Homo sapiens: one gene and its partner. The protein of the gene in region 1 purifies or fractionates together with the protein of each later gene. This does not show direct contact. Each region holds a gene or a part of one and is shown on either strand. Other genes may lie near its edges.

Region 1 (3,823 bases):
GGAGCAGCTGCTTCAAGTATACCCTTATCAAAATGTCCCTGCTCCTGTCCTGCTCCACCCTGCGCTTCCATTTCACAGGTAAGTTAATGTCTATTGGCAAATCACATGCACTGAAGAATTAATGGATTTTTTTTGTATACACATACACACTACTCATAGACACACACCCTCACACATACAAGGATGTACTTATAAGTAATAAATAACGAAAAAGGTCAGGAAGGACACGTACTAAATTGTTAATGGTGATTACTTATGAGTTTGAGGAAGAGAATTTTCATTTGGCTATGTAATTATTTTTTTGTTTTTTGAGACGGAGTCTCACTCTGTCGCCCAGGCTGGAGTACAGTGGAGTATTCTCGGCTCACTGCAACCTCCGCCTCCCAGGTTCAAGCAATTCTCCTGCCTCAGCCTCCCCAGGAGCTGGGACTACAGACATGCGCTACCACGCCCAGCTAATTTTTCTATTTTTAGTCGAGGTGAGGTTTCGCTGTGTTGACTAGGCTGGTCTTGAACTCTTGACCCCAGGTGATCCACCCGCCTTGGCCTCCCAAAGTGCTGGGATTACAGGTGTGAGCCACTGTGCCCATGAGCCACTGTGCCCGGCCTGTAATTTTTTTTTAATGACAGAATTATGGATCATTTCTCCTTTAAAAAAATGTAATTAATTACTTTTTTTTTTTTAAGACAGGGTCTTGCCCTGTCACTCATGCTCTGGAGTGCAGTGGCACAATCACAGCTCACTACAGCCTTGACTTCCCAAACTCATGCAATCCTCCCACCTCAGCCTCCCGAGTAGCTGGGACTACAGGCATGAGCCACCACACCTGGCTAATTTTTCTTATTTTTTGTAGGATAGGGTCTCACTATGTTGCTCAAGCTGGTCTTGAATTCCTGGCCTCAAGTGATCCTCCTGCTTCAGCTTCCCAAAATGTTGGGATTACCAGTGTGAATCACCATGCCTGGCCAATTTCTTACTTTTTATTAAAGGCTTTCAGGATTTTTCGAATAGTAAATAAAATTTAACATCTGTTTCCACTCAAATGATAGGAAAGCAGGATCAATGAGAATGTTTCCAAGTCCTCAAGTGACACCATGAATTATCTATTCTTTTTGTACAAAAAAAAAAAAAAACTAATGAGAAATGTTACTTGGAGCACAGGCTTAGAAACCAGAAATATACGTCCTCTGCTCTGTACATTCCATGCCCTGAACCCTGTTTCAGATCCATTGGTGTCTTCCACAGTCTCCATCCTATTTCGCATCAGAACTATTAGGTAGCAAAACGAGACATGATTAACAAGACAGAAGATGCCCGCCTCTGAAATCGCTTTCTGAACAGCACTCCAGTGGGGATCAGTTCTGGGGAGACAAAATAGCAAAGTGAGTCAGGTCAGGTTATGCCTATTCACTCAATTAGGGAACTTCTTTAATCACAGTTGATAATCATCAGTAAGTTTTGAAAATCTAACAGTTTCCAGATGAAAACGAGGTAGAGCTAAATGTATTAAAAATAATTACAAAACTAAAACAGTAATGATCTTTAAGCAGACAATAGTATGAAAAGCTCTCCAGGTACAAGTTGTCTCCATTTCAAGAAAGTATTGAATTAGTTATAATAATAAAAATAAACAAATAAAATGTTTCCTAAACCTACTTTGATATCCTTTCCCACTTTTGTACCTTTGCTTAACTTCTGCTCCATCTGCTGTTTCATCCACCGCCTCTACATCTTCTTCACTGCCCTCTTCACTTGACTCTTGGCCTTCTTCTTCTTCACTATAAGGCTAAAAAACCATTGAAATGTGAAGTGCTTTTTAACTAATGCAAAAAACAACCAATAAAAATACCAGTACTGCCACCTAACCCTCCAGTAAAAACAAAAACAAGCTTTTCTGTTTAAAAACAAAAAAACAAAAGCATCAGTACTTTCAGAAAATCTTGAGCATAGATGGGAATTTAGTATATATGATGAGCATATAAAACTCAGTGGGAAATAAATTTTCAACACATGGTTAATAACTTTGCTATTTGAAAAAATAAGAACTGAGATAGACAGCAAGTTTAATCAAAATAAATTCCAGATGGAATTTACTTAAATAAAAAAGAAAAGACGTAAAGATAAAAATAAAAGAAACATAAAAGCATTAGAAGAAAATAATCTAGAGATGGGGAAGCCCTTTCCAATCATGATACAAAATCAAAAATCATAAGTGGAAACACTGACAGATTTAGCTACATAATAAATAAACATGACCTAAAGTCAACAAAGAAAATATCTAACACATAACTTAAGCATATCCTGAGGGGAAAAAAAGAAAATAGCTCACACAAATATCTAAGGATTAATATCCTGATTATTAAAATATTATAAAAGCTCTTAGAAATCAATGAAAGAGTTTTTTAAATCCCTTAGAAAAAAATATCCAAAAGAACTGAAAAGGTACCAACACATAAAAATGATAAGCACTCAAGGTGATGGAAATCTCAAATACCCTGACTTGATTATTACACAATCCATACAAGTAAAAAGCACTCACACAAATACATAAAATATTATGTATCAATAAAGAAAACCGAAAGTGCCATTCGCAAAGAAGATATACAAATGGTCATAAAGCATATGAGATGATGCTTAACCTCATTAGGAGTACAGTAAATGCACATTAAACCACTAATGACACTTTTTTTGCTGGTCATATTGGCAAAAATTTTAAAGATTGCTAACAGCCATCACTGGCAATTGTGTGAGGAAACAGCACTCACTGATTGTTAGAGGTGGGAGTACAAATTGGCATAACTTTTCTAAAAGGCAAATTGGAAAAATAAATCAAAATATAAAGCTATAAACCCTTTGAACCAGTGATGAACATCTAGGAATTTATCTAAGGGGATAATCGGGCAAGTGTGCAAAGATGCACGCAGGCTTGATGACAACACAAGTTGCTGGCTGGCTACCACCTATTCCCCACCTCCTTTTTCAAACAAAATCCCTGATTTAACAATGATCCAGTTAAAAGACTACATTTCCCAAGACTTCCTTGCAGCTAACTGTTGCCAGAGAACTAAATGCTGGTCAATGAGCAACAGTTGAAAGTTTTTTTGTGTAACTTCCAAGAAACCTTCTTAAAAAGGCAGCAGCTTATGCCTTTTGAATTCTTTCCCCTTTTGCTCCTTGGAATCCTTAAAAGATCCAGCAGCTGACTTAAAACTAAAGAGATAACTCTAGGCAGAGCAGCCTCACATCAGAAACAGGATAAAATACTGGATAGGATCTTAACCAATTATTGATTGCTTTTCTCCACACTTTTATGCTTGAGAGAAATAGGCTTCTACCTTATTTAAGCTACTTTTTGGGGGGATCTTTTTGCAACTGACAGTGGATGCTAATCCCATGTTCTTTGCAACATAATCGATAGTGATTATAGGTTGGAAACAACTTCAATGACCATCTAAATGAGATTAGAAGACTTGCTGCCATTGAAAAAGATGATCTAGACCTGCCCTATGTAATACAATAGCCCTTTGGCCACATGTAGCTAGTGAGCTCTTGAAATTAATCCAAACTGAGAAGTGCTGTAAATGTAAAACACACATTGGATTTTGAACTTAATGTTAAAAAAGCAAAACAACTCAATATTTTTAAATATTGATATGTCAAAATAGTATTTTTGATATACTGGATAATATAAAATATATTATTAAAAATAATTCTACCTGTTTCTTTTTACTTTTTAAAAATGTGTGTAATGAAAAACATGTATTTGTTCTTTGTCACTGATTCCTGGCACAGAGCTCCTGAAACCCTTGGAATTTCCTGAAT
Region 2 (3,823 bases), on another chromosome or scaffold:
TAACTGTCACCTTTGAGTCACTTCTGCTATGTCTTTGTCTTACCTAAATTGAGTTTCTCTAGTGATATACCCTCTTTTAGTGGTCTTAACTATTCCCATCATTTTAAATACACTCTGTAAATTAGTCAGCTTTCCCTAGGATATGCTGAAGTGATGCAACCCAAATATCTTGTGGCATACATCAGAGAAGTTTGTTTTTTGCTTACATGACTTGTCCTGCAGTTCTGCAGTTGTTGGCTGGGACTGGGCTGTAGCAGCTTTATTTTGTGTGGCTCTATTCCTTGTTTCTCAATCTAAGTTGAAGAATGACCCTTTTCTGGAACATCTTCCTGTGTCAGAGGAAAAAGAACAATGTCCAGTCTATGAAGTGTTTGTTAAACCTTTTGTCTAGACATGTGTATGTCATGTCTGGTCACTTTGCATTGATGAAAACAAGTCACATGGTCAGACCCACACCTGAAAGTATATTTTTCCTACACGGAAGCCTTAAAATTCGCATGGCAGTGAGTAAGGATTTTCACCACTTGCCTGAAGATGGTTTTAGTCCGTATTTTGACTGTTCCTAGTGGTAAAAATAGTATACGTGTATAGATTTATCCCCCCTAGACATAACATTTTTCTTGTTTTTTTTTTTTTTAATCAAATAGGATTTTCTACAAGGAATATGTCTTACCCCTGACTGTGAAGGTGTCATTTCTAAGATTATCATCTTCAGCAGTGGTGGTGAAGTTAAATGTGAAGTAAGTAATAAAGGGGAAACCTTGTTAGATAGATAACCAAAATGTTTACACCTTTTGAAACATGATTTGAATTTGTAGATATCATGTAATTTGGATCTTTTCCAGGAAAGAAACAATTACTTCATTTAAGAAAATATAGGAAATACTGGGATGTGAGAATGCTTCATTGTAATGAAAGCATTCTTATATTCTTTTATTTCTTAATAGGAAAAGGAGGCTTTTTATATCTTAGTTTTACTATTTTTACTGTTTTTGATAACTTCATTTTCTTAATCCCGGTAAACTTTTGGGCAGTAGTGGGTGTGCAGGTTTTTAGGGAGGGGGAAGAGCGTCTTGAGGGATTACCTTTAACTTCATGACATGGGAATGGCAAGAGTGGGTAGTTGTAATAATATTTACACTTTATTAGATCGTCTGCTTACTCTTAATTTTTTAAAAACTTTTTCCTCAAGTGTGTCTACCCTCTTGTTCCTCTTCAGTAAATTATTTTGCTAAAGCTTTCTGGGCTTTTGTCTGGGTCAGAACATCATCACTGTTCTCTATCAAACTGAACATTATGTGTGCTTCTGAAATACTTGTTACTTGTGGTTTTGTGTTTTATGTCATGGGAGTATGAGACAAATTTTGGATGTCTTTGTTTTATTTAAAGTTTGAACACAAGGTCATAAAAGAAAAGGTTCCTCCAAGACCTATTCTGAAACAGAAATGTTCTAGGTAAGATTTTTAACAATCAATCAGTGGTTTGATGATGTCTCTTAGAATATAATTCTATTAAATGCAGATTTCTAAATTATGCCTTTTTAAAAATTGGCTGTGTATACATATATTCAAATAAGTGTTTTTTAAAATGATTTTTATGGAAAATTAAAACTTAAAGAGAACTAGCCTAGAATGATTAAATACTAAAAACTTGATTCAGAATTATTTATCTAGTGGTTGAATTTACAATTAAAATTATAACATTTGATGCTGTGAAATTACATGTTTGATTAATAGATTTGGCATTTATATAAAAACTATACAGTTTGCTCTCAGTTGTTGAAACTTTAATTCCAAAAGCATATTTTTCTTTTTATCTCTCTTCAGTAAACATTTTGAACCTATGACTATTTTTTACCCTGAAATACTCAATGTACTGTCTAAATTATTACTTCTCTATAGCTTTTTGTTTAGATCAAATAATTCAGATTCTTTTTTCTTTTCTTTTTGGTCCTGCTTCTTGTTTTTCTTTCTAAGAAGTGATTTTTTTTTATCATTTGTGACCAAGAAAAAGCAAAAGAAAAGATGAACAGAATTATTTGTTGGAGAGAATTCATTGTAACCAGATCAACCAAATTATAGTGTTGTGGGTTATTATTGAGATGTGAAAATTATATTTTACTATGGGACCTTTCTTAGAAATGAGAGTTTACATGAATTATTTTGCAGAGTAATTTGTACTATTTCTGTTTACCCTATGAAGTAACTTAGATACATGAAAGTGACATCTATACAATCTGTAGACTGCATCCTTAGACATCACCTAATCATTGAGGTTTTTGTTTTCATGAAACAAGTACCCTTATTTTGACAATACTGACAGTTTCTTACATTGAATGGAAGATGTAGGCCGGGCTCTGATTAAAAAAGGAAAACTTCTAATATATTGCTTGGAAGATGGTTTCTACGATAGTCAAAGGAAAACAGTTCATTGAGTTGTCACTAATTGTAAATGTTTATCAGCCTAGAGAAACTAAGACTGAAAGAAGACAAAAAATTGAAGAGAAAGATCCAAAAAAAAGAAGCAAAAAAGTTAGCACAAGAAAGAATGGAGGAGGACTTAAGAGAAAGTAATCCACCCAAAAATGAAGAGCAGAAAGGTATGCAGAAGCCAAAGGCATGATAAGAATAATATACTCTCATTTAAATGTATAAATGTAAGCATCTTTTGGGCCTTATATTCATCATTATTGAATTGAAATAAAGATTTCACTTAGTAATTTAATACTATCACTGTCTTCTGTTACTCGAAGACAGAATTGGGTTGGTGTAAAGAACACTGAAAAACCTTTCAGAGATTGTATTCCCACTGAAAAACCTTTCAGAGATTGTATTTTAACTTTCTGTGCTTAATGACTAAACATATTTATTGTATATAAAGTTAAGGTAGTTGATGAGGCTGGGTTAGGATTGTTGAAGGAAGTGGCCGTATTTTAGGGGAACTAAGTTGTTTTTTTTTTTTGTTTTTTTTTTTTGAGACGGAGTCTCACTCTGTTGCCCAGGCTGGAGTGCAGTGGCGCGATCTCGGCTCACTGCAAGCTCCGCCTCCCGGGTTCACGCCATTCTCCTGCCTCAGCCTCCCCAGTAGCTGGAACTACAGGTGCCCGCCACCATGCCCAGCTAATTTTTTGTATTTTTAGTAGAGATGGGGTTTCACCGTGTTAGCCAGGATGGTCTCGATCTCCTGATCCACCCTCCTCGGCCTCCCAAAGTGCTGGGATTACAGGCATGAGCCACCACGCCTGGCCTAGAGGAACTAAGTTTCAAATGCTACTACATGAATGGTTCAGAATGAAGGGTGTAAAATGCTTACTTTTGGTATGTTTATTTTAGCGTACACTTTCATGTCTTTTCAAAAGTATTGTTAAGTGTTTATATTTCTAATTAAAGTTTCTTGAGTTTAGTAAAACAGTATAATCAATCTGAATCATATTTTATATTATGTAATTTTGTTATTTCTAAGTTTATGTAATTGTGAATTAGTCCTATTTATCACTTTAACCATTGTTATTTATCCTTAGAAACTGTAGACAATGTTCAGCGTTGTCAGTTCCTTGATGACAGAATTCTACAGTGTATAAAGCAGTATGCTGACAAGATTAAATCCGGCATACAGAATACAGCCATGCTTCTCAAAGAATTGCTTTCTTGGAAAGTTTTGAGCACAGAAGACTATACAACCTGTTTTTCTAGCAGAAATTTTCTAAATGAAGCAGTGGACTATGTTATTCGCCACTTGATTCAAGAAAATAACAGAGTAAAGACAAGAATATTTCTGCATGTTTTGAGTGAGCTTAAAGAAGTGGAGCCCAAATTAGCCGCCT

What was found.
Region 2: the proteins of NPHP1 (region 1) and TTC3 purify together in Homo sapiens (affinity purification with mass spectrometry; one large-scale study listed by BioGRID and IntAct). This does not show direct contact.

Annotation. Positions count from the first base shown.
Region 1 is NC_000002.12:110,163,369-110,167,191, forward strand, and holds part of NPHP1 (nephrocystin-1), read right to left. Parts: intron 1,788-3,823; coding exon 1,684-1,787; intron 1,363-1,683; coding exon 1,320-1,362; coding exon of another isoform or gene 1,152-1,319; intron 1-1,151. UniProt on the Homo sapiens protein: Together with BCAR1 it may play a role in the control of epithelial cell polarity. Involved in the organization of apical junctions in kidney cells together with NPHP4 and RPGRIP1L/NPHP8. Does not seem to be strictly required for ciliogenesis.
Region 2 is NC_000021.9:37,149,431-37,153,253, forward strand, and holds part of TTC3 (E3 ubiquitin-protein ligase TTC3), read left to right. Parts: intron 1-647; coding exon 648-740; intron 741-1,389; coding exon 1,390-1,454; intron 1,455-2,462; coding exon 2,463-2,599; intron 2,600-3,520; coding exon 3,521-3,823. UniProt on the Homo sapiens protein: E3 ubiquitin-protein ligase which catalyzes the formation of 'Lys-48'-polyubiquitin chains. Mediates the ubiquitination and subsequent degradation of phosphorylated Akt (AKT1, AKT2 and AKT3) in the nucleus.